Homo sapiens: one gene and its partners. The protein of the gene in region 6 purifies or fractionates together with the protein of the main gene of each other region. This does not show direct contact. Each region holds a gene or a part of one and is shown on either strand. Other genes may lie near its edges.

Region 1 (3,500 bases), on a different chromosome or scaffold from region 6:
ACTACCAGCATCAGCTTCGGGGCTTTCTGCACTTTCCAGTCATTTTGATAAAAGAGAATGAAATGCAATAAAATACCCAAATAACTGCATGGATGGTGGATGCCACAGGTGAGATGAAGGTGGCAGCTGGAGACGCGGGACCCTGCACTGTGCCCTGCTGTTGCAGGCACCCTCCCGCCAGACTGCTTCTCATAACTGAGGCAAGGGAATTCAACCAACGGGTAAGGCCCACGGCTCGAAAGCCTGCCCTCACCACTGTCACCTCCCCTGGCAAAACAGTGAAAAGTCAAAACATGGACTCTGAAGAAAGTGTGGTTGACGAGCTCATCAGGAATCCCTGTGTGAATGTGTGTGAACACGGGTGTGCACGGGAGAGGTCTTCCAGGGCTCATGCTCGGTGTGGCCATGCTGACTGACCTGGCACTGGCCCATGCACAGAGGGCAGCCGCCACTCACCCTGCTGGCCGTTGGAGAGGATGTCGCGCTCTCCTTTCTGGACCACCGTCACGTTGCCCAGGGCTTGGCTGAGTCTTAGCACAGATCCATGGCTGTCATCGCTGTCCATAGGGCCTCTGAGCTATGACAACACAGGAAGACAGAGAAAAAGCAAAGTCTTCCTCAGACACACGACGACAGATAGCCCTGTCCCATCCGCCATGAGACTCATGCTCTCGTGTCTAAAGGGATCACCCAGGCACCTGTTAAAGGCCATGTAGGTGGGAGGATGCCCAGGATATCACCTGCAGTGAGTCCTCCGAGCAGGTGCTGACACGGTGCCTGCTCCAGTGCCCATCCTCTACCTCATCAGAGCAGGCTGAAGGAGGACCACCCAAGACTGGGTTCTGAGAGCTTTGCAGGAGTAATACAAATTCCAGTCGTACTGGGCACTAACATTGATGGGACACTTACCATGTGGGGACTCACGGCTTTACATAGGTTTCCTCATCTCATCCTCACAACCCCGTGAAGCTGATGCCATCATCACATTACAGATGAGGCACTCAGGACACAGACAAAGTGACCTGTCCAGAGTGCACTGCAGGAGGGGCTGACTGACCCGAGTCCCTGCCTGTCCCAAGCCCACTACACCATCGTTCATCCAATCCAAGCGCATTAATGGGAAGACGCGCCATCCGCTGGGAGAGGCACAGCGATTACTTGCAGGTGTGTCCACAGGGACAGGCTGGGCAGAAGCATGGAGCTCGTCCTTCACCCTCTTCAGGACGAACAGGGCTTGCATCTACCCTCCAGGGGGTCCACTGACTCACCACAGCGTCATACAGTCTGCTGAACTCCACGTGGTTGGGAGTGAGCACAGCCTTCCGGTAGCCATGGATGAGGGCCGGCTGCTGAGCGACCAGCCACAGGCCATCCTGCACAGAACAAGGAGCCGTGCTCACTGCACAGGCCTTCCGGGAGTCCGAGCCAGGAGGAGAGAAGTCAACTCACCGCGTCGATGACAACAGGGATGTCCCTGGCCTTTGACACTTCCAAAATGCCCTGCCAGAAGAGAAAACCAGACTGAGCACCATGCCTGCTGCTATGGTGTGGGTATGTGTCTTCTCAAAACTCATGGTGAAACTTAATTGCCAAGGGAAGGGTCCTGGGAGGTGGGGCCTTTAAAAGGTGATGTGGCAGTGTCCTCATGGGTTGGTTTAATGACCTTTAAAAGAGGCATAAGGGTCTCTCTCCTGCCCTTCTGCCCTCGCCAGATGCCGGCACCTTGATGTTGGACATCCACCTTCAGAACTGTGAGCCAGTAAACGCCTGTTCATTATCAATTACCCAGTCTGTGGTACGGCTACAGCAGCGCAAAACCGACTAAGACACTTTTCCCAAGAGTGACAGAAAATTGAGCAGACTCTTAATAAAATGCAACATCAGGCCATCAAACAATAAATGGAAAATAATCAAGTAAATGAATAAAATAGAGAAGCAGAAAGACCCAATGAACTCGCAGAGCCCGTAAACAAGGCAGGACACTGGGAACTCTGAAAGGCGAAGCCCACTGGAAACGCTATGAACAACAGCTGGGCTCCTAGGCTAACCCATGAAGACAGCCCCCGCCCCAGCAAGGGCATCCAGTTCTCCAACAGATACTAATACGCAGCATTCGGAGGCAGGAAATCTGAATTCCTGAGAATTCCCCAAATCATTAGTCATTATGTATTTTTCATATCACTTTACTTACACGTTTTAAAATAACAACAATAATAAACAGGGAATCATTTTTCCCTGATAGGATTACAGTGAAGGTTTCAAAGGTTTTCTATTAAAAAAAAAAAACTACATGTATAGATACACACACATATATGTAATATTTGGTGGTTTTTATTATTATGAGCCAATACATTGTGACAAGATTATACACTGCAGTAGCATGTAAAGTGATCCTGACTTGACAGACACCTGATAATACAAAACATTAAAATAGAAAACATTAAACAAAATGAGAGGTGACAGCATGCTGGCAGTCCTCAGAGCCCTCGCTTGCTCTCAGCACCTCCTCTGCCTGGGCTCCCACTTTGGCGGCATTTGAGGAGCCCTTCAGCCCACCACTGCACTGTGGGAGCCCCTTTCTGGGCTGGCCAAGGCTGGAGCCCACTCCCTCAGCTTGCAGGGAGGTGTGGAGGGAGAGGCGCGAGCGGGAACTGGGGCTGCCTGCAGCGCTTGCGGGCCAGCTGGAGTTCCGGGTGGGCGTGGGCTTGGCGGGCCCCGCACTCGGAGCAGCCGGCCAGCCCTGCTGGCCCGGGGCAATGAGGGACTTAGCACCCGGGCCAGCGGCTGCAGAGGGTGTACTGGGTCCTGCAGCAGTGCCAGCCCACCGGCACTGTGCTCAATTTCTCACCGGGCCTTAGCTGCCTTCCCGCCGGGCAGGGCTCGGGACCTGCAGCCCGCCATGCCTGAGCCTCCCACCCCCTCCATGGGCTCCTGTGCGGCCCGAGCCTCCCCGACGAGCACCACCCCCTGCTCCACGGCACCCAGTCCCATCGACCACCCAAGGGCTGAGGAATGCGAACGCACGGCGCAGGACTGGCAGGCAGCTCCACCTGCAGCCCTGGTGCGGGATCCACTGGGTGAAGCCAGCTGGGCTCCTGAGTCTGGTGGGGATGTGGAGAGTCTTTATATCTAGCTCAGGGATTGTAAACACACCAATCAGCACCCTGTGTCTAGCTCAGGGTTTGTGAGTGCACCAATCAGCACCCTGTGTTTAGCTCAGGGTTTGTGAATGCACCAATCGACACTCTGTATCTAGCTGCTCTGGTGGGGCCTTGGAGAACCTTTATGTCTAGGTCAGGGATTGTAAATACACCAATCGGCACTCTGTATCTAGCTCAAGGTTTGTAAATACACCAATCAGCACTCTGTGTCTAACTCAGGGTTTGTGAGTGCACCTATCGACACTCTGTATCTAGATGCTCTGGTGGGGCCTTGGAGAACCTGTGTGTCGAAACTCTGTATCTAACTAATCTGATGGGGACGTGGAGAACCTTTGTGTC
Region 2 (4,100 bases), on a different chromosome or scaffold from region 6:
CATGATCTCAGCTCACTGCAACCTCCACCTCCCGGGTTCAAGCGATTCTCCTGCCTCAGCCTCCCAAGTAGCTGAGGACTACAGGCACATGCCACCACACCTGGCTAATTTTTGTATTTTCAGTAGAGACGGGGTTTCACCATGTTGGCCAGGATGTCTTGATCTCTTGACCTCGTTATCCACCTGCCTCGGCCTCCCAAAGTGCTGGGATTACAGGCTTGAGCCACTGCGCCTGGCCAGAACTATACATTTTCATTTCAACTTAGCTTAAAGAAAAACATGTACCTAGGAGTCAAAACTCTTTTCACCTCCCCTCTGTTTTCTATGTGACCTGTAGCAAGGTGCCACATTTTTCTGGGCCTCAGTTCTTTCATTTGTAAAATAAAAACATTTATCCCCTGTGTCCCTCAGAGGGGCTGGGAGGCTTCACCAAGAAGTGAAACACTCTGAAAACTCTCTCCTAAGTGTTAGCATACTATCATTAATCAACTCAAGAGGGCACAGCAGTCATAATTTTTCCCCAGAACTTTGTTTCAAGTTTACAGTGAAAAATTTTAATTATCTTCAAATCTGTGATGGGATTTTCAAGAAAATATCTTCACTATTGCAAATTTAGGACAAAATGTTCCAAAAGTCTCTCAGGACTGAAACTATAGAAAAGAGAACCAATAATTGACTTTGATCAGGAACTGCATTAACCTCTGAGTTAATTACCCTAAAACTTAAGACAACCTCTTTGGTTGTATTGAGAAACTCATTTGGGAAGGGTGAGGAGCCAGACCTTACAAACTAGAAATATAAAGGAAAGATCATGCCACGCCACCACCTAGCTCACTCTAATGGGAGTATGAAAAACAAACTTGCCTTTGCATATTTAAATTATTTTAAAAGGGAACAAGCGGAAAAACTTCATCAACATTAGGACCCCCTCATGGAAGTAGAAAAATACAAATGAAAACACACCTACATCCCAAAATCCTAGCACATGCCTAAAATCAAAAACTACAACGATGCTCTACTCTAAATATGCCCAAGATAATACTCACTGAAAGCAGAAAGTTTGTATTGCCAGAGGAACAGCTACAACAGAGGAGGGGAGCTATTTTGTCTCTGGAATGAATTTTCTTCCTTCCGATTCCATTCCTTCTTCCTGTACCTAAGACGGAAATGCAGGTGCAGTGAACAAACACCCAGGTAGTGCAGAGGTAAGATAGATACGGTTTCTGAAAAATCACAACTCGACAGAGCAATTTCGGGGGGGTGGGGGGCACAGCAAATAGCTAGAGAACAGGCTCTCCTTATTTCAAAACCTTGCAAACTCTAAATCTGAGGCAGCCGTGAAGTCCCATGCCCTGAATCATCTCATCCTTAGCGTCATCAGCAAGAAGGGAGGACACTGAGAATCAAAGGTTTTATTTATTGAACTCGAGCATGAGACGCACATTAAAACTTCCCCACCACAGATGCAGAGCAAAAGTTGCTCTCAGGCCAGAAGAGACCATTTAAAAGCTCTCCGCCGGTTTCAGAACACAAATAAATTTCCCAATCCTCTGCAAAGACAGAACTGAAGAATTACTGGACAGCACGCCAGAGGCAGGGACCTGAGGGCAGGCCATCTTGCTATGCCGGGAGGAGACGGTCACTGTTGCTAAGGGTCATCCATCCTTAGTCTCGAAGAAATCTCTTCCTGATCTCTTCACCAACTCTCCCCACTACTAGAGAATTGAGCTACTCCCAAAGATGTAAGTAAACAGGAGACTGTTTACATCTCCTGTGGGTGGGAGAGGCCCCACCCACTCTATCCTAGGAGAGGGCAGTGAAAGAGGATAAGGCCCAGAGGGATAAGGGTGAGGGAGCATGGCAAGGAGAGGAGTTCAGATCAGGACAGGGAATGTAGGAGGGCAAGGAGTGAAGGGCACAACCCACAGCCTGGGAAAGAGAGGCATGAAACCCAGCGTGTCAGGTGGACGGATCATGGAATGGGGGGCCAGCGGAGGTTAAGGAAGGAGGGCCCAAGAGTAGGGGTGCGAAAAAGAGAAGAGGAGGAGGAGAAAGTGCGCGTGTGAAGAGTGTTAAGAAAACGACAGGACAGAGCGGGGAGGGGAAAAGCGGGCCGAGGGACAGGGTGAAAGGTGAGAAACGAGGGTATGAGGAAAGAGGGTCCGGGGCGCTGGGGAGTTGGGGAGACGATGGAGCGACGGGTAGAGCAGCTTGGGCCGAGCCGCGGGGGTGGAATCCAGACGCCGGGCGGGGGAGGGGGCGGCGGGGCGGCGGGACGGTGGGTGGGGGCCACCAGGCGGCGCCGGAGACCACCAAACTTTACAGCGAGCGAGCCTGCTTCCTGGAGGGAGTGCAGACAAGGACCAGGAGCGGGAGCCGAGCCTCGCGGCCCGGGGCACGGCGCCGCCCGCCCCTCCCCGGCAGTGCCTCCCGACCCCCTGCCCTCCGCTGGGACATGGCCTGAGGCCCCGCCCGCCGCCCGGGACTCCTCCCCCCCGCTGCCCCCGGACCCTCGCCCCAGGACCGCGGGGTCTCTTCCCGGCCCCGCCGCCCGCCCCGGCGAGAACAGGCCCGGCGGGCAAGGCGGCGGCGGACCGAGGGAGGCCTGGCCCGGCAGCGGGGAGAAGGGTGCGGCGCAGCCCGAGTTTCCCACCTTTTCTCCTGGCCCAGACGCGGCTGGGGCGGACGGGACCTCTCGCGCTCTGCCTCCTCCTCTTGCTTCATGGAGCCATGCGCCTGGGTGGGGGCTCCCGAGAGAAGCTGGCCTGCGGGCGGGCCGGACGCGCTGCGCGGACGGGGCGGGGCGAAGGAGGCCGGCGGGCGGAGGAGGAAGCGGCGGGGCGGCGGCGGCGGCGGCGGCCGGGAAGAACTAGAGGTATTCCCCGGGCGGCTGGAGGACTGAGTCGAGCCGGGACCCGAGTCCTCCGGTATCCCAGCAGCCACCGGAGGCAGTGAGGTAATGGAGGAAGAATGTAGGGAGTCCTCCAGTGGACCACACTCCTTCTAGCGAGCCGCGGAAACCATAGAGATCAGGGCTCAGCCGGAGGGCCGGCCCACTGCTGTCACGTGGCCTCCATCCGTGCGCTTTATTGGCTGGTGCTGGCTTTACGGGGTTGAATTTTGGACGCTGCCTGCCATTCGTGGGACCGAGTTTCAGGCAGCTGGAATAAAGAGAGACATCGGGGGAAAGCCGCGAGAAGGCCAGCGTCCCTGGCTGGGAGCAGAGCTAGCCGAGTAGGGCGCCCGGCTGTCAAAACTGGCCGGCGCAGTGCACGCTGGGCCGCCCCGGAGCGGTCGCAGAGCCCGTCGGGAGTCGTAGTCCGGGACGGGCCCGCAGCATTGTCCGCGACGCAGCTCGGGATCCGCGTCGGGTTGTCGGCCGGGTTGCTGCCAGGCACCGTCGAGCGTTAGCCACCCAGCATTGAGCTGCCAGCGGCTGTTCTCCCTAAGCACCCTCGCTCACGTCGCCTCGCCTCGCCTCGCCTGACCGGCCGCAGCCTTGGATACCAGCCTTAAATCGAGCCGACTACGGCCCAGCCCCGCCCGCGGCGAAGTGCGCGGGGTTCGGTGCCAGCCGCTCGCCCCTGGCCGGGCCAGCCTCTTGATGCACCGGGGACGGGCGCGCCCATCCGACTCTTCGAGGGGCGGCAGGGCCCCATCTGTGTCTTTCGCTCTCGAGCCCCCAGCTAGAGTTGGCTTCAGCGGAATACCTACTGTGCAGGATTATTCAACAAGCCGATTGATCACATTCTTCAGCTCTAGCAGTGCAAAGGCTTCACTGAAAAAGAACATTACAAATTTTTTTTGAAAGAAATTTGGGGGTAAATTTAATTTTAAATACTGATTTTTGATAACATTTGATCTTATGACAGCATTTGTATTTTTAATTACAGATAGGATTACACTAAAAGTCATTTCTGACCTGCTCCCTTACCCTTATGGCTAAAATAAACTGCTAGGCCCTGAAGCAAAGGCGAGCCATGTTCTAGAGCAATGTCTTTCTTGTATTAAAATACGGCCCCATGCTCACATATAGGCTGTTTTGTGTTTTGCTTTTCTGTTGATGCACAAAGGAATCCTTGATATGTTTGTCCTCAAAG
Region 3 (3,500 bases), on a different chromosome or scaffold from region 6:
GAGATTCTGAAACTATACTCGCTTTCTACAGGGAAGCTCCTAAATCTAACTGCCCCTAGCAGCTAGACTCCAAATGGATCATTCATTGCTCCCTGGCAATTAAACCGCTGGCTTTAACAACTTCTTTTTTTATCTTTTTTTTTTTTTTTTTTGAGATGAAGTCTCACTCTGTCACCCAGGCTGGAGTGCAGTGGCGCAATCTTGGCTCACTGCAACCTCCGCCTCCTGGGTTCAAGTAAATCTCTGCCTCAGCCTCCCGAGTAGCTGGGACTACAGGCACCCACCACCATGGCCAGCTAATTTTTGTATTTTTAGTAGAGACGGGGTTTCACCATCTTGGCCAGGCTGGTCTTGAACTCCTGACCTCATGATCCACCTGCCTCGGCCTCCCAAAGTGCTGGGATTATAGGCGTGAGCCACCATGCCCAGCCCTTTGTTTTTTTTTTTTTTTTAGCTATATTTGTTTCTTAGAGAGGGAGTCTCACTATGTTGCCCAAGCTGGGCTCAAATAGGTAACTAACACACCCCTGAATCTAACTGTCCCCCAACAGCTAAGCCCCTGAATCTAACTCTTCCCATACTCTAGCATGGGGGTCCTTAACCCTGGGTACCGGTCCGTGGTCTGTTAGGAACTGGGCTGTGCAGAAGGTGGTGAGCGGTGGGTGAGTGAGCAAAGCTTCATCTGTAGTTACAGCCACTCCCCATCACTCCCGTTACCACCTGAGCTCTGCCTCCTGTCAGATCCGCAGCAGCATTAGATTCTCATAGGAGCACAAACTCTATTGCGAACTGCACATGCGAGGGATCTAGGTTGCGTTCTCCTTATGAGAATCTAATGCCTGATGATCTGTCACTATCTTCCGTCTCTCCCAGATGTGACCATCTAGTTGCAGGAAAACAAGTTCAGGGCTCCCACTGATTCTACATGATGGTGAGTTACATAATTATTTCATTATCTATTGCAATGTAATAATAAAGTGCACAATAAATGTAATGCATTTGAATCCCCGAAACTATGCCCTGCCATGGTCCATGGAAAAATTGTCTTCCACGAAACCGGTCCCTGGTGCCAAAAAGGTTGGGGACCACTGTTCTAGCAGGTAAACTCCTTGAATTTAATACTGAAGCCCCCTAAAAGTCTAATGTCCATCCATTCATTCTTGTAACAGATACTTCAACACTTGACACACACGTAACTATATGAAGATCTTGGGCTGGATAAAGGAGCTGGTCACCTTGCTGGAAGTCTGTCCGCCCACACCCACGGATCAACAGGGCATCTCCAGTGAAGGCCATGCTGTGGTCATTCAGGACGAAGGTGACACAGCCTGGGGTGTGGCCAGGGCTGGCCCTGGTCTCCAACGCCTGGCAGGGGTGGAAGAGTACAGAGATAGTCACCAAGAAGCCTTCTAGATGAAACTGGCCCCCAAAGCCCCACCCTACCCCAGGGTCTTATCTAGATAAACATTTTGGTAAAAAATGTAGATTCCCAGGCTGTAATCTTATATTATCAGAGTAAACTCCAAGTGGATTAAAGATTTAAATGCATGAAAAATAAAACCGCAAAGCTGTGACACACAACAACAAAAATACAAATAATATCTGACCTCTGGTTAGGAAGGTGATATGGTTTGGCTGTGTCCCCACCCAAATCTCATCTTGAATTGTAGCTCCCATAATCCTCATATGTCATGGGAGGGACCAGGCAGGAGGTAATTGAATAATGGGGGCAGGTTTTTCCCATGCTGTCTCGTGATGATGAATAAGTCTCACGAGATCTGATGGTTTTATAAAGGGCAGTTCCCCTGCACACTCTCTCTTGCCTGCTGCCATGTAAGACAGGTCTTTGCTCCTCCTTCGCCTTCCACCATGATTGTGAGGCCTCCCCAGCCATGTGGAACTATGAGTCCATTAAACCTCTTTTTCTTTATAAATGACCCAGTCTTAGGGATGTCTTTATTAGCAGCATGAGAAAAGACTAATACAGTAAATTGGTACCAGTAAAGTGGGGTGCTGCTATAAGGAGATGTGAAAATGTGACTTTGGAACTGGGTAACAAGCAGAGGTTTGAACAGTTTGGAAGGCTCAGAAGAAGACAGAAAAATGTGGGAAAGTTTGGAACTTCCTAGAGACTTGTTGAGTGGCTTTGACCAATATGCCGAGAGTGATATGAACAATGAAGTCCAGGCTGACATGGTCTTACATGGAGATGAGGAACTTTTTGGGAACTGGGGTAAAGGTCACTTTTGTTATGTGTTAGCAAAGAGACTGGCAGCATTTTGCCCCTGCCCTAGAGATCTGTGGAACTTTGAACTTGAGAGAGATGACTTAGGGTACCTAGTAGAAGAAATTTCTCAGCAGGAAAGCATTCAAGAGGTGACTTGAGTGCTGTTAAAAGCATTCAAGAGGTGACTTGAGTGCTGTTAAAAGCATTCACTTCAGTTTTATGTATTCACAATGATATGGTTTGGAATTGGAACCTATGTTTAAAAGGGAAATAGAGCATAAATGTTTGGAAAATTTGCAGCCTGACAATGTGATAGAAAAAAAAACCCATTTTCTGAGGAAAAATTCAAGCCTGCTGCAGAAATTTGTATAAGTAACGAGGAGCCAAATGTTAATCACCAAGACAATGGGAAAAATGTCTCCAGGGCATGTCAGAGGTTTTCACAGCAGCCTCTCCCAACACAGGTCCAAAGGACTAGGAGAAAAAATGGTTTCATGGGCAGGGCCCATGGCCTTGCTGTTTTGTGCAGTCTCAGGACTTGGTGCCCTGCATCCCAGTCGGGGCTAAAAGGGGCCAAGTACAGCTCAGGCCATTGCTTCAGAGGGTGCAAGCCCCAAGCCTTGGTGGCTTACACGTGGTGCTGGGCCTGCTGGTGAACAGAAGTCAAGAACAGAGGTTTGGGAGCCTCCAGCTAGATTTGAGAGGCTGTATGGAAATGCCTGGATGTCCAGGCAGAGGTGTGCTGCAGGGGTGAAGCCTTCATAGGGAACCTCTGCTAGGACAGTGCAGAAGGGAAATGTGGAGTGGGAGCCCCCACAGAGAGTTCCCACTGGGGCACTGCCCCTAGTGGAGCTGTGAGAAGAGGGCCATCGCCCTCCAGAACCCAGAGTGTTAGATCCACCGAGAGCTTGCACCATGTGCCTGGAAAAGCCACAGATACTCCACACCAGCCCGTGAAAGCAGCCAGGAGTGGGGCTGTACCCTGCAAAGCCAGAGGGGCAGAGCTGCCCAAGACCATGGGAACCCACCTCTTGCATCAGCATGACCTGGATTTGAGACATGGAGTAAAAGATCTTTTTGGAGCTTTAAGATTTGACTGCCCCACTGGATTTAGGACTTGCACGGAGCCTGCAGCCCCTTCATTTTGGCCAATTTCTTCCATTTAGAATGGATGTATTTACCCAATCCCTGGATCCCACTGTATCTATGAAATAACTAAACTTGCTTTTGATTTTACAGGCCCATAGGTGGGAGGGACTTGCCTTGTCTCAGA
Region 4 (3,500 bases), on a different chromosome or scaffold from region 6:
GCTGAAAAGTTACAGGATCTCTTCCAGGAGGAGGATGGCAGTACAGCAGCTTACCCTACAAAGACAACATGAATGACAACAGTGCAGCCTAAGTGCCATCTGTGGCCTCAGAGGAGACAGCTCCACCCAGTCACACTCTGATGGAGCTTTCTGCCTTCTGGTTAAGTTAGCTGAGTTGAGTTTTGGTCTACTGCAGCTGAAGAGTCCTTTTTCTAATACATCAATGGTCAAAGTGTTCTAGAGACCTAGCTCTTCCCATGGCGCCCCAGACTAGGATGAAATCTCTTTCTTCTTTTCTCGTTTGCATTCCCACTCAAGTATTCTTCAGTATACGGACATGATCATACTTATGGTGAATATTTTCCAAAACAAAACTCAAGACATAACTGGACAGTTACGGTAATGCCGGGTTAGACTGTTAAAGTCAGGAGAGTTCCTCGACTCCTGTATGTGGGGTTGCAGTTGCTCACTGGGTGCAAGTCTGCCTCTTTCCATCATAAATGATCTGAAGGCTGTGACTATTTTTACCTCATCTTTACATCCTCCACAGTAAGTGGTAAACGAATACATGACTTATCCATACCAATAGCATGAACTGCTTTCTTCCTGAACTGAAGGCAAGCCCATATGGTTGCCACTGAGCTCCAAGAGCTCCACCGATGTGGTCTTGAGAAGAGGAGGAAATAAAGCCAAATCCTCACAACTGGTTATTAACAGGGCCCTGTAATGCTTATTTGTGGAAAGAAACTTAATAGATAACAATTACTGGGGGCTCATTATGTGCCAGGCATTGAGCTTAGTGCTACACACACACACACACACACACACACACACACACAGACAGACACACACACACACACACACACACACACACACACAGACAGACACACACACACACACACACACACACACACACACACACACACACACAGAGTTTTCATTTATTTCCCATAATAATCTCATGAGATAGGCCCTGTTCATCTCCATTTTACTATGGGGAAACCCCCAAATAGCATGTTCTCATTTGAAAAGGAGAAATAGTAATCTCACAGACTTGTTACATATTTGTACTGAGAAGACGCACGTAAAACAGAACTATTTCTAGCAGGGTTAGCTTTCAAGAAATGTTAGCTGTTATCGTTACTAGGCAAATATAGAGATAGGCATATAAACAGCTATACTACAAAGAAGACTGTGACAATAGTTGCAATCATAACAAGCAAAGGGCTGTAGGAGACAAAAAAAGCCAGATGCATATATTGGTGATTTTCACTCATAATAGGTGTTCAGAGATCTCCATCTTTTGTAATGTCTATAATCCATATAATGTTAACTACCCTACATCAAGAACACAACTCCAGTTTCAATGAAAAAATATTTCCTTTATAATCGAACAGGTTACCATTATCTAAGAACGCAGAATGTGGAAAAGACTTGTGTATTGGAGAGCATGAGAGGCAGGGTTCACTTACACTGACATAGTCCTTCAGGATGTAGCGCGCAGATCGAGGCTGGTCTGGCTGTCCATGCGCTGTCATGAATCCTCGCATGTCTGTGGAGAGAAAAGAATTTTGCAAAATCTTAGATGACAGAATATCACAACAAAGACAACTGAGGTGATGTAGCTTCTATTACTAAGCATTCTTACTCTTGGATTTTAAAAAATTAGGTATCATTGTAGAATATATATTGTTTAGCATTAAAAACACTAGATAATCCAGGAGAATATTTACTTATATCTGATATCCTAAAAATGCCACCTAGCACCACGCTATGAAAGACAAATTCGATTTCTCTCTACTCCAGTTATTTCTTCTCTTTATTTTATTTTTATTTTATTTTTTGTTGAGATGGAGTCTCGTTCTGTTGCCCAGGCTGGAGTGCAGAGGCACAATCTTGGCTCACTGCAACCTCCACCTCCCAGGTTCAAGCAATTCTGATGCCTCAGCCTCCCAAGTACCTGGGATTACAGGCGCATGCCACCACGCCTGGCTACTTTTTGTATTTTTAGTAGAGATGGGGTTTCACCACGTTGTTCAGGCTGGTCTTGAACTCCTGACCTCAGGTGATCCACCCACTTCGGCCTCCCAAAGTGCTGGGATTACAAGCGTGAGGCACTACACCCAGCCTCCTTATTTTAAACATTTATTCATGGAGGCTACCTGTAGGAGAATGCTACGCTATCAATACTACTTGCAAAACAGAAAGCAACAGAGAAGTTTTCTTACTGAATGATGTACCTACATTTTTTTCCCCAGTAAGATCCCTTTAATACTAACTCAATTAGAAAAGCAGCGAAGCATGGTGGTTAAGAACACGGCTTCAGCAGACAGGCTGCGTTCAAAACTCAGTTCCCTCACATACTAGCTGTCGACTGGCTTTTCCAGTTTCGAAGAAAATAGTTAGAATCCTAATTTACACAATATACAACAATAAATTTCGTCAGATTAAAAATCTAAATGTTAAAAAAGTAAGTAAATATTACAGGAAGATAGTTTTATCTTTTTGGGAGGGAGAAGACCTTCCCAAGTAAAACACCAAACCCAGTCAAACCAAAAAGGAAAAATATAGTCTATTAAAATTGTCAACTTCTTTGGGGCCAAAGAAACCATAAATTAACATTGGAAAAAATGTGTAGCACATATAACAAAGAACTTTTACAAATCATTAAGACAGAACCATGTATAGGAAAATGTGATTCCCAGAAGAAAAATAAATGGTCACAAAACATTTGGAAAGATGCTCAACTTCACTAGTATTTAAAGAAATACAAAGTAAAATGAGAGTAATCTGGCAATATCTTTGAAAATTTACTGTCAGAGATTTTCTTCTATATGGACTTGCAGATAGTGAACTTAGAAATTGTACGTGTGGTCATTTGCTTTTACAAACTGGCTTTTTCCTTACTCTGATTTTATCAGGCAGCATTAGATGAAACATCTTAAAAGACTCACATTATTTTCAGTTGTATCGGAAGTACAATCAAACTGGAAGTTTGGTGGAAGTCCACCTTTCTGCATTTTGCAGGCTAACATCCTGCAGGGAGATCTCACCCAGGCTATTCCACTGACCAGCCACCTCACCTTGGGTCAGCTCAGGCTCTGAGTTCGGATGATTACTCTTAAAAGCAGGGGCTAGGAGGTGAGGTGATCTTTAAGGTCTTTTCTTGTTCTATGAATCTGTAATTAGAATAGTCTTACCACAAGTGTTTAGTATTTATCCTCTTTAGAGTCTCTAAGTTCAAGGTTTAAGTGTGATTCATATCAAATCACCTTTCACCTTTCTCTGCCAGTAAATACTCAAATAAGCTGAACTCCTTCCCAACCAGCAGCAATCCCTGTAAAGGCAAGTCACCCACGCACGGAAATGTTTCCCACACTGCTATTTTTTTTTTTTTTTTTTTTTTTAGGTAGACACAAGGTTCTCCAGGCCACCTTTAAAGTTTACATTTAAGGCAAGAAATCATAGGTTCCCACGTGGAATTGGGATAAAACACAGAG
Region 5 (3,500 bases), on a different chromosome or scaffold from region 6:
TTTTTCTTTTTGAGACAGAGTCTTGCTCCGTTGCCCATGCTGGAGTGTAGTGGCGCCATCTTGGCTCACCACAACCTCCGCCTACTGGGTTCAAGATATTCTCCTGCCTCAGCCTCCCAAGTGACCGGGATTATAGGCGCCCGCCACCATGCCCGGCTAATTTTTTGTATTTTTAGTAAAGATAGGGTTTCACCATGTTGGCCAGGCTGGTCTTGAACTCCTGACCTCATGTGATCTACCCACCTCGGCCTCCCAAAGTGCTGGGATTACAGGTATGAGCCACCGTGGCATGGTGGCTCAGCCAGGTTTTTCTATCTTTAAAATAACAATAACAGGCATTTCTCTTCTCACTGGTTTGTTTTGAGATTTTGACATTTAAATGAGATGTGTGTAAAGTGCTACAGTAGGCCCCAGCGCCTGCCATTTCTCACATATGTATGTGAAGTGGGCATGTCTCCTCATTATAAAGAAGAAAACAGGCTGGAGCAGTGTGTGTCGCTCAGATGTCAGCTATGTGGACTGTTACAAGACATTTTCCTAGATTGCTGTACTTGTGAGTCATTCTGCCTGTCCCTGTCCTTCATTTCAACCTGTCCTTGGGTGGGATTGCACTCTTGTTTCTTGTAGGTGCTGGAAAGTCCCTGGTTGGTGTGACTGCTGCATGCACTGTCAGAAAACGCTGTCTGGTGCTGGGCAACTCAGCTGTTTCTGTGGAGCAGTGGAAAGCCCAGTTCAAGATGTGGTCCACCATTGACGACAGCCAGATCTGCCGGTTCACCTCCGATGCCAAGGACAAGCCCATCGGCTGCTCCGTTGCCATTAGCACCTACTCCATGCTGGGCCACACCACCAAAAGGTCCTGGGAGGCCGAGCGAGTCATGGAGTGGCTCAAGACCCAGGAGTGGGGCCTCATGATCCTGGATGAAGTGCACACCATACCAGGTAAGCAGGCTGGAGCTGAGCTGTCCACTTGCTGAACAGACAAACCAATTTCCAGTTGTTAGGTTGGGAAAGGGACTGCTGTGTAGCCCACCCAACTGGCTAGAAAGACTTGCTGGCTTGCTGGGTAAAGCTTTTAATAGTTCTTTTTTTTTTTTTTGAGAGGGAGTCTCACTCTGTCACCCAAGCTGGAGTGCAGTGGCACGATCTCAGCTCACCACAACTTCCACCTCCCAGGTTCAAGCAGTTCTCTGCCTCAGCCTCTGAGTAGCTGGGATTACAGGCACCTGCCACCATGCTAGGCTAATTTTTGTATTTTTGTAGAGACAGGGTTTCCCCATCTTGGCCAGGCTGGTCTTGAACTCCTGACCTCGTGATCCACCCACCTCATCCTCCCAAAGTGCTGGGATTACAGGCGTGAGCCACCGTGCCCGGCCAGTAATTCTTAAGTGGGATGCAGGCAGGAGTGTTCACATTCACAGTTTGCTTAATCACTGGCTCAGTAGTGATTTAGAAAATGATATTTTCTTTCCTCCATCTTCCTTTTGCTGCTCAGCTTCATCCGTTTTTTAATGGCCCTCTAAAAACTGGGTTAGGAGCACTGAAAAGCCCTTCCCAAAATGGTGGTGATGTGTTTTATTTGAAGCCCGGAATATTGATCCTTAGTCAATATGTAATAGAAGCCCTACTTCTCCAAGTATCATGGGCAAACCTTTTTTTTTTAAGCTGCTCTATTGATTTAATTTATATACCATAAAATCACCCCTTGTAAATATATAATCCAATGAGTTTTAGTAAATTTGTGGACCAGTGCAACCATGACCATGATCCAAGTTTTCTTTTCTTTTTTTTTTTGAGATGGCATCTTGCTTTGTTGCCCAGGCTGGAGTGCAGTCGTGTGATCTTGGCCCACTGCAACCTCCGCCTCTAGGGTTCAACTGATTCCCCTGCCTCAGCCTCCCAAGTAGCTGGGACTACAGGTGTGTACTACCACACCCGGCTAATTTTTTTTTATTTGAGACAGTTTCGCTCTTGTTGCCCAGGCTGGAGTGCAGTGGTGCAATCTCAGCTCACTGGAAGCTCTGCCTCCCGGGTTCAAGTGATTCTCCTGCCTCAGCCTCCCGAGTAGCTAGGATTACAGGTGTGCGCCACCATGCCCAGCTAATTTTATATTTTTAGTAGAGACAGGGTTTCTCCGTGTTGGTCAGGCTGGTCTCAAACTCCTGACTTCAGGTGATCCGCCCACCTCAGCCTCACCCTGGGATTACAGGCGTAAAGTACCACACCTGGCCAAATTTTTGTATTTTTAGTAGAGAAAGGGTTTCGCCATGTTAGCCAGGCTGGTCTTGAAGTCCAGACTTTAAGTGATCTGCCTGCTTGGGCCTCCCAAAGTACTGGGATTATAGACGTGAGCCACTGCATTCGGCCACCATGATCCAGTTTTAGATTTCCTTTGTACTCATTTGCAGTCAATCTTTGTTTCTCTATCTAGCTTCAGATGACTACTGAACTGCTGTCACTATAGATTTGCTTTTTATGGAAAATTTATATAAACACAATCATACAATATATATTATGTCTGGCTTCTTTCACTTCCCATAATGATTCATCTGTGCCTTAGCATTTATCAGTAGTTTGTTCCTTTTATTGCTGTATAGTTTTTTGGGCGAATCTTTTTTGATAAAAACAGATTAAGGGATTAAGATTAACAAATTAGGAGTGGGCATGGTGGCTGACACCTGTAGTCTCCTAGCACTTTGGGAGGCCAGGGCAGGAGGATTGCTTGAGCCCAGGAGCTTAAGATTAGCCTGGGTAACATAGTGAGACATGTCTCTACAAAAAAAAATTTTTTTAATTAGCCAAGTGTGGTGGTGTGCACCTGTGGTCTCAGCTGCTGAGGAGGCTGAGGTGGGAGGATCACTTGAACCTGGGAGGTTGAGGCTGCAGTGAACCATGATTGTGCAACTGTACTCCAGCATGGGTGACAGAGTGTGAGACTCTGTCTCAAAAAAAAAAAATAAAGATGAACAGATTAGGGTAAATTAAGGAGTCTAATAGAGGTTACTATGAACAAAATGAAATCTGAGGCATTTTCACAGGTAGTGTTCAAAATGTCAAAATGGCCCCAGCATCTGGTTCTTTCTGTGCATGAGAGCTCTTCAGCCCTGATGGGTTTCTGGAGATACCTAGAGATGTTCACAGCTGGCCAGGGAGGGATTGGAGGTCTTTCTGATGGAAGCCCAGGGTGTGGGCCCTGCTGTGGGAAAGTACTTGGCATAGTGAGACAGCACAAGGTGGCCATGCGGCCAGAGGAGAGCATAGGAACAGTAGTCAAGGCTGAGGAAGATTAGCGGTATTGGGGCAGGTCTTGTAGGACCTTGTAGGCCACGACAAGAACTTTGGCTTGTACTCTTAGTGTGAAGCCATCTGAGGGATTTGAGCAGAGCATGACATGAGTTGACTTTACACTGTAAAAATACTGCCCTGGCTGCTGTGCTGGAAATAGACTGAAGGAAGCAAGACAGAAGCGGTGAGGTGAGTTTGTGGAATCCCAGTAAGGA
Region 6 (3,500 bases):
TCAATGACAGTATTCTCATCTCCTTTATCAAGGAACTGGACTTCATTCTCCTGCAAAAGCTGCTTGATCTTGACCTGTTGCTGTTTGACCCGGGTCTCAAGCAGGCGCACCTGGGCTCTGAGCCGCATCTGCTCCTGGGCACAGTCCTCGAGCGCCTGCAAAACAGGTGAGATGAGATGAGTATGCACCTCATTTTCATGGAAAACAAGTGCTTTTTAAACATTTGGATAAATCAGTGATTCCATTTTGTCTCCAGTTCCCATTTCAGAATATTATTCCAAAGAGAAAGTGGCTTGAAAAGTTCTAATACTGCCTACTATTTGAAGAATTGGAAATTATGGCTTATGCGAAAACTCCTGGACTCAAAAGATCAAATAATATAAAATAATTGGAATCGCTATGCTAGGAGCTTTATAGTTGTCTCCTTTGATCCTCATAACAATTCCATGCGGTAGGAAAGGGCTCAGTCTTGATGCCCAGTGGGTAAGCGGAGGTGGGATTCAAATTCAGTTCAAGGACTGTGCTCTCAATCTCTATATGACATTGCTTATGTGTTTTCTAAACAGTAATGTGGTTTATAGAAGTTAATTGTACTGTTGGCATGTAAATCTCCATAATAAATGAGGTTTTTGAATGGCTGTCTGGTATAAATACTTTTAAATATGTATATTTAATGTATATTATATATTATATATATTATATATGCATATAAATAATATATAATATATATAATATATAATATATTAAACAATATATAATATATAGTATATAATATATTAAACAATATATAATATATCATATATAATATATTAAATAATATATAATATATATCATATATAATATATTAAATAATATATAATATATCTCATATATAATATATTAAATAATATATAATATATCTCATATATAATATATTAAATAATATATAATATATATCATATATAATATATTAAATATATAATATATATCATATGTAATATATTAAATATATAATATATATCATATGTAATATATTAAATATATAATATATATCATATGTAATATATTAAATATATAATATATATCATATGTAATATATTAAATAATATATATCATATATAATATATTAAATAATATATAATATATATCATATATAATATATTAAATAATATATAATATATATCATATATAATATATTAAATAATATATAATATATATCATATATAATATATTAAATAATATATAATATATATCATATATAATATATTAAATAATATATCATATATATCATATATAATATATTAAATAACATATAATAATATATAATATATTAAATAATATATAATATAATAATAATATATAATATATAAAATAATATACAATATAATAATAATATATAATATATATTACAAAATATATAATATGAATATATATGAATATAAATGAATAGATATTATATAATATATAAATATAAATAATATATAATATATTAAATATATTTATATATAATATAATGTAATATAATTGTATTTATTATATTATAGTCTACTTTATATAATATATTATATTTATACATAATATACGTATATATAAAATTACATAATGGATTTATATAGTATATATTATATCAAATACATATGCATATATAATACATTTATATTTATATAGTCTATAATATATATATATTTTTTATATATATATATATGTAGTACATCTCCCCTCCCTCCCATCTCTAGGTCCAAGTCATGGAACCTCTCCCAGCCATTTTTCTAGGATGGTTTCTCCCTTTTCCTTCCCCTTCCCCTTTCCCTTCCTCTTCCCTTACGTTTCCTTTCTCAGAACCTCTCCCAGATATCTTTTCTAGGATGATTTCTTTCTCCTCTTTTCTTTTTCTTTTCTTTTGTTCTTTTCCTCTCTTTCTCCTTCCCTCCTTCCCTCCCTTCCTTCCTTCCTTTCTTTTCTTTCCTTTCTTCCCATCCCTAGGTCCAAGTCACAGAACCTCTCCCAGCCATTTTTCTAAAATGATTTCTTTCTCCTCTTCTTTTTCTTTTCTTTTGTTCTTTTCCTTTCTTTCTCCTTCCCTCCCTCCCTCCCTTCCTTCTTTTCTTTTCTTTCTTTCCTTTCTTCCCATCCCTAGGTCCAAGTCACAGAACCTCTCCCAGCCATTTTTCTAGGATGATTCCTTCTCTCTCTCTCTCTCTTTCTTTCAACAGAGTCTTGCTCTGTTGCCCAGGCTGGAGTGCAGTGGTGCGATCTCGGCTCCCTGCAACCTCTGCCTCTCTGGTTCAAGCGATTCTTGTGCTTCATCCTGGCAAGTAGCTGGGACTATACAGGTTGTGTGCCATAACACCCAGCTAATTTTTGTATTTTTAGTAGAGATGGGGTTTTGCCATGTTGCCCAGTCTGGTCTCAAACTTCTGGCTTCAAGCGATCCACCCACCTCGGCCCCTCAAAGTGCTGGGATTACAGGCGTGAGCCACTGCACCAGGCCTCTCTAGGATTACTTCTTATTTGTTCTTGTTACTCTATCCCTAACACTCAGATTTATCCCTTCTGAGATAGTTATTTGCTTAGCACCTTGAGTCACATAGGCTAAAAAATGAACAGCAAGAACATTTTATGGTGTCTGGGTCCTGAGTTGTTTTACAACAGTGGGGGATCGGTTGTGATATTGTTAAACATAGTGCACTATGCAATTTTAAAATAATTGAAGACATCACAGGTCAAGTATGCCCAATCTTTATGAGATTGCATACGCATATTTAGTAAGCTTATTTAAAACCTAGGAGTTTTCTTTCTCCAAGAACTTTGAATGAATGTTTTGTCTTTTTTATTCACAAATGAAGGACAACACAAGTTCGATGTAATTACTTTCAAATAATCTGGTTAGTTTTACACTTTTCAATATTGAAAAGCTCAAGGTTAATTTTAATTACTATGGACAGTTTCAAATTTCTAATATTCCAACCAAATAACTCCAGTGAATTTTTAAAAATTACTTATTTATTATGAATACTTTTTATTTAAAAAAATGTAAAGCACTTTTTTTTTTTTTGAGATGGAGTCTCACTCTGTCGCCCAGGCTGGAGTGAAGTGGCATGATCTCAGTTCACTGCAATCTCCGCCTCCTGGGTTCAAGGGATTCTCCTGCCTCAGCCTCACGAGTAGCTAGGACTACAGATGCGTGCCATCACGCCCGGCTAATTTTTTGTATTTTTTTTAGTAAAGATGGGGTTTCACCATATTGGCCAGGCTGGTTGCGAACTCCTGACCTTGTGATCCACCCATCTCGGCCTCCCCTGCAAAAATGTAAAGCGCTTTAAAGTGCTGCTTTACTATGTGTCCAGTATTTCTACCAGCCTCTTTGCTTTTCCCACATAGTTAAGTTTTTTCAATGACAAGTCACTATAGGTTTAATGCAAAATGAAAGAAAATTCAGATAAAAGCAGGCATTATAAATATGACAATAGTTTTCCCAAGAAGCTTACCGAAATTTCCCTGCCCATTGTCAGAGCGGTGGT
Region 7 (3,500 bases), on a different chromosome or scaffold from region 6:
AATTAAACAACACACTCCTAAATAACCAGTGAGTCCAACAATAAACCACAACACAAATTAGAAAATGCTTGGACAGCCAGGCGCGGTGGCGCACACCTGTAATCCCAGCACTTTGGGAGGCCGAGGCAGGCAGATCACCAGAGGTCAGAAGTTTGAGACCAGCCTTGCCAACATGGTGAAACCCCATCTCTACTAAAAATACAAAAATTAGCCAGGTGTGGTGGCAGGCACCTGTGATTCCAGCTACTTGGGAGGTGAGGCAAGGAGGTGATTTCCAGCTGAGGCAGGAAAATCGCTTGAACCTGGGAGGTGGAGGTTGCAGTGAGCCAAGATCATGCCATTGCATTCCAGCCTGGGGCGACAGAGCGAGACTGTCTCTCAAAAAAAAAAAAAAAAAAAAGAAAATGCTTTGCCACAAAACAAAAACACAGCATACCAAAACTTATGGGAAGCAGCTCCAGCAGTGCTTAGAAGAAATGTACACCTTCAAGCATCTGTATTAGAAGACTTCCAGTTTTCTGTTCCTCACGTGAGAAGCTTAAAAGTCACCACTTAGTCCTAACAAGTAAAAAACTAAACAGACTGAAAAGTTATCAGCTCTTCTTGGATCCATAGGAGAGGTGAGGACAGAGTGTAAATCACTGTCCTTAAGCCTGGAGACAGACAGCCCAATACAGAGAGTCCCGGCTCACCAGGACAGGCTTGGGCAGACATCACCACGGGAACTGGTGTCAGGGTGGGAGAGCCTGACCCTGTCATTTATGAACTGTTTGAGGCTCAGTGTGGATGAGTCTGAGAGTTAAAAACCTGCCCCAGCCAGGCGTGGTGGCTAATGCCTGTAATGCCAGTACTTTGGGAGGCTGAGACGGGCTGATCACCTGAGGTCGGGAGTTCAAGACCAGCTTGACCAACATGGAGAAACCCCGATATACTAAAAAATACAAAATTAGCCAGGTGTGGTAGCGCATGCCTGTAATCCCAGCTACTCGGGAGGCTGAGGCAGGAGAATTGCTTCAACCCGGGAGGCAGAGGTTGTGGTGAGCCAAGATTGCGCCATTGCACTCCAGCCTGGGCGATAAAAGCAAAACTCCAACACCAAAAGAAAAAAAAAAAAAAGAAAAAGAAAAAACCTGCCCCAGTCATAAGGGACTCCCATACTTATGAGTTTTACCCCTAGGAGCTCAACCAGGCTCTCAGTGAATATTAGAGAAAGGCTCTCAGTGAACATCAGAGAAAAATCGGCTTGTGCTTCCAGCAGTGTGGCGGGGAAAGGAACCATTCTGAAACAGGCCAGAGTGCTCTATTCTCCTTAACCAGGCCGGCCCTCACGAGGAGCGCATTACCCAGAGCTCCTGCGGGCATATTATCTGAGCCTAACTGACCTGGGGGAATGAAACACCCAACTCCAGTAAGCTCTAGACTTCCACGTGGGAGAAGGAAGCTACTCAACTCCAGCCCATTCCAGCCACTTTGTCCCACTGGGGTAGGGAGTGGGTACTGAAGAGAAGCATAGGGGACATTCACAGCCAAGGGACTCAGGCTCACTAAAACACTCAGGCTCACTAAAAACCCTCATACTTACAGCACACTGATTTCTGACAAAGGTGCCAAGACAATTCAGTGGGGGAAAAGCAGTCTTTCTTTCAACAAGTGATTACTGAGACAACTTGATAACCGCACACACACAAGAATGAAGTGGGAGCTCTACCTCACACCATATGCAATAATTAAATTAACTGAAAATGAATCACAGGCTTAAACGTAAGAACTAAGAACGATAAAACTCTGAGAAGAAAATGTAACAGTAAATCTTCAAGATCTTGGGTCAGGCAAAGTGTTACTAGATATAATACCAAGAACACACAACAAAAGAAAAAATAAATAAAATGGGGATTTTGTCAAAATTAAGAACTTCTGTGCTTCAACTAAACACCAGCAAGAAAGTGAAAAACCCCACAGAATTGGGAAAAAAAACTTGCAAATCATATATCCATTATCATATATCTTTAATAAAATAGATTTTAAAAACTCTTACAATTCAATAATAAAAATAACTCAATTAAAAAATGAGCAAAGGACCCAAATAGACATTTCTTCAAAGAAGATATACAAATGGCCAATGAAACATGTGAAAAGATGCTGAATATCATCAGGGATATCACAGTTATTAGGGAAATGCAAACCCAAACAACGAGCTGCCACTCCACACCTGCTAGGAAGGGTATCATGAAAAAGGTAGTATCAAGAGTTGGCAAGGATGTGAAGAAACTGGAGCCCTCATAAACTACTGGTGGCAGTCGAAAATGGTATGGCCACTTTGGAAGAAGTCTGGGAGTTCCTCAATAGGTTAAATATAGATTACCATATAACCCAGCAGTTCCACTCCTAGGTATTAACCAAGAGAAATGAAAACATATGACCACACAAAAGCTTCATGTTCATACGGCATTATTCATAATAGCCAAAACATGGAAACACTCCAAATGCCCATCAACTGATGATGAATAATCCACATGTGGTCTATCCACAGGATGGATTAATCAGCCATTAAAGGGAATGCAGTACAGACACATGCTGCAACCCCGATGAGCCCTGAGGTATTCATACTCAGTCAAAGATACCAGACAGTCCGGGCGTGGTGGCTCACGCCTGTAATCCCAGCACTTTGGGAGGCCGAGGTGGGTGGATCACTTGAGGTCAGCCGTTCAAGACCAGCCTGGCCAACATGATGAAACCCCGTCTCTACTAAAAATACAAAAATTAGCCAGGTGTGGTGGTGGGTGCCTGTAATCCCAGCTACTCGGGAGGCTGAGGCAGGAGAATCGCTTGAACCTGGGAGGCAGAGGCTGCAGTGAGCTGAGATCGCGCCACTGCACTCTGGCCTGGGTGAGAGAGCGAGATGCCCTCTCAAAAAAAAAAAAAAAAAGTCAGACACAAAAGGCCACACATATATGATTCTATTGACAGGAAATTGTCCAGATTAGGCAAATCAAGAGACACAAAGTACATTAGCAGTTGGCTGTCTAGGGCTGTGGGGACTGAAGAGAGAACTAAGGGATACACGGTTTCTTTTGTGCCAATAAAAATGTTCTGAAATTGACTGTGGTGATGGCTGCATAACTTTGTGAATATACTCAGAACCCATGAATTGTAAATTTTCTATGGGTGAATCATAGGGAATGCAAATTATATCTTAATAAAGCTGCTATATTTTTAAAAAACTACTCAAAGATCACCCAGAAGGCTTCAAGCAGCAGCTTCGTGGGCTGTGCTCTGCACAGGAGGTGGAATGACAGCACGAGACATGGAGTCGGCCAGACCTGAGGTCTTGATGGGCTCTACCACTGACCAGGTGGTGTGACACTGGCCACAGAACTTAACCCCTCCCATGGGGCTGGGGTCCTCAAGTCAGGAAAACAGCAACTCTCTCCCAGGCTGGCTGCGAGCTTTAAATACGATAATTCCCGTAAAGCCCTGAGCTTGTGAAGCGGGGCTGGAGG

The links.
Region 1: the proteins of FGL1 (region 6) and NAXD purify together in Homo sapiens (affinity purification with mass spectrometry; 4 studies listed by BioGRID and IntAct, with this or other methods). This does not show direct contact.
Region 2: the proteins of FGL1 (region 6) and AMMECR1L purify together in Homo sapiens (affinity purification with mass spectrometry; 4 studies listed by BioGRID and IntAct, with this or other methods). This does not show direct contact.
Region 3: the proteins of FGL1 (region 6) and ETHE1 purify together in Homo sapiens (affinity purification with mass spectrometry; 4 studies listed by BioGRID and IntAct, with this or other methods). This does not show direct contact.
Region 4: the proteins of FGL1 (region 6) and LSG1 purify together in Homo sapiens (affinity purification with mass spectrometry; 4 studies listed by BioGRID and IntAct, with this or other methods). This does not show direct contact.
Region 5: the proteins of FGL1 (region 6) and ERCC3 purify together in Homo sapiens (affinity purification with mass spectrometry; 4 studies listed by BioGRID and IntAct, with this or other methods). This does not show direct contact.
Region 7: the proteins of FGL1 (region 6) and GOLM1 purify together in Homo sapiens (affinity purification with mass spectrometry; 4 studies listed by BioGRID and IntAct, with this or other methods). This does not show direct contact.

The regions. Positions count from the first base shown.
Region 1 is NC_000013.11:110,632,545-110,636,044, reverse strand, and holds part of NAXD (ATP-dependent (S)-NAD(P)H-hydrate dehydratase), read right to left. Parts: intron 1,501-3,500; coding exon 1,450-1,500; intron 1,374-1,449; coding exon 1,269-1,373; intron 578-1,268; coding exon 457-577; intron 1-456. UniProt on the Homo sapiens protein: Catalyzes the dehydration of the S-form of NAD(P)HX at the expense of ATP, which is converted to ADP.
Region 2 is NC_000002.12:127,883,157-127,887,256, forward strand, and holds the start of AMMECR1L (AMMECR1-like protein), read right to left. Parts: upstream 2,801-4,100; 5' UTR 2,654-2,800; intron 1,705-2,653; exon of another isoform or gene 1,602-1,704; intron 1,157-1,601; 5' UTR 1,047-1,156; intron 1-1,046.
Region 3 is NC_000019.10:43,510,202-43,513,701, forward strand, and holds part of ETHE1 (persulfide dioxygenase ETHE1, mitochondrial), read right to left. Parts: intron 1,366-3,500; coding exon 1,236-1,365; intron 1-1,235. UniProt on the Homo sapiens protein: Sulfur dioxygenase that plays an essential role in hydrogen sulfide catabolism in the mitochondrial matrix. Hydrogen sulfide (H(2)S) is first oxidized by SQRDL, giving rise to cysteine persulfide residues.
Region 4 is NC_000003.12:194,644,692-194,648,191, forward strand, and holds part of LSG1 (large subunit GTPase 1 homolog), read right to left. Parts: intron 2,739-3,500; exon of another isoform or gene 1,553-2,738; coding exon 1,473-1,552; exon of another isoform or gene 56-1,472; coding exon 1-55. UniProt on the Homo sapiens protein: Functions as a GTPase. May act by mediating the release of NMD3 from the 60S ribosomal subunit after export into the cytoplasm during the 60S ribosomal subunit maturation.
Region 5 is NC_000002.12:127,284,145-127,287,644, reverse strand, and holds part of ERCC3 (general transcription and DNA repair factor IIH helicase/translocase subunit XPB), read left to right. Parts: intron 1-627; coding exon 628-942; intron 943-3,500. UniProt on the Homo sapiens protein: ATP-dependent 3'-5' DNA helicase/translocase. Binds dsDNA rather than ssDNA, unzipping it in a translocase rather than classical helicase activity. Component of the general transcription and DNA repair factor IIH (TFIIH) core complex.
Region 6 is NC_000008.11:17,882,025-17,885,524, forward strand, and holds part of FGL1 (fibrinogen-like protein 1 precursor), read right to left. Parts: coding exon 3,468-3,500; intron 156-3,467; coding exon 1-155. UniProt on the Homo sapiens protein: Immune suppressive molecule that inhibits antigen-specific T-cell activation by acting as a major ligand of LAG3. Responsible for LAG3 T-cell inhibitory function. Binds LAG3 independently from MHC class II (MHC-II).
Region 7 is NC_000009.12:86,037,059-86,040,558, forward strand, and holds part of GOLM1 (Golgi membrane protein 1), read right to left. Parts: intron 1-3,500.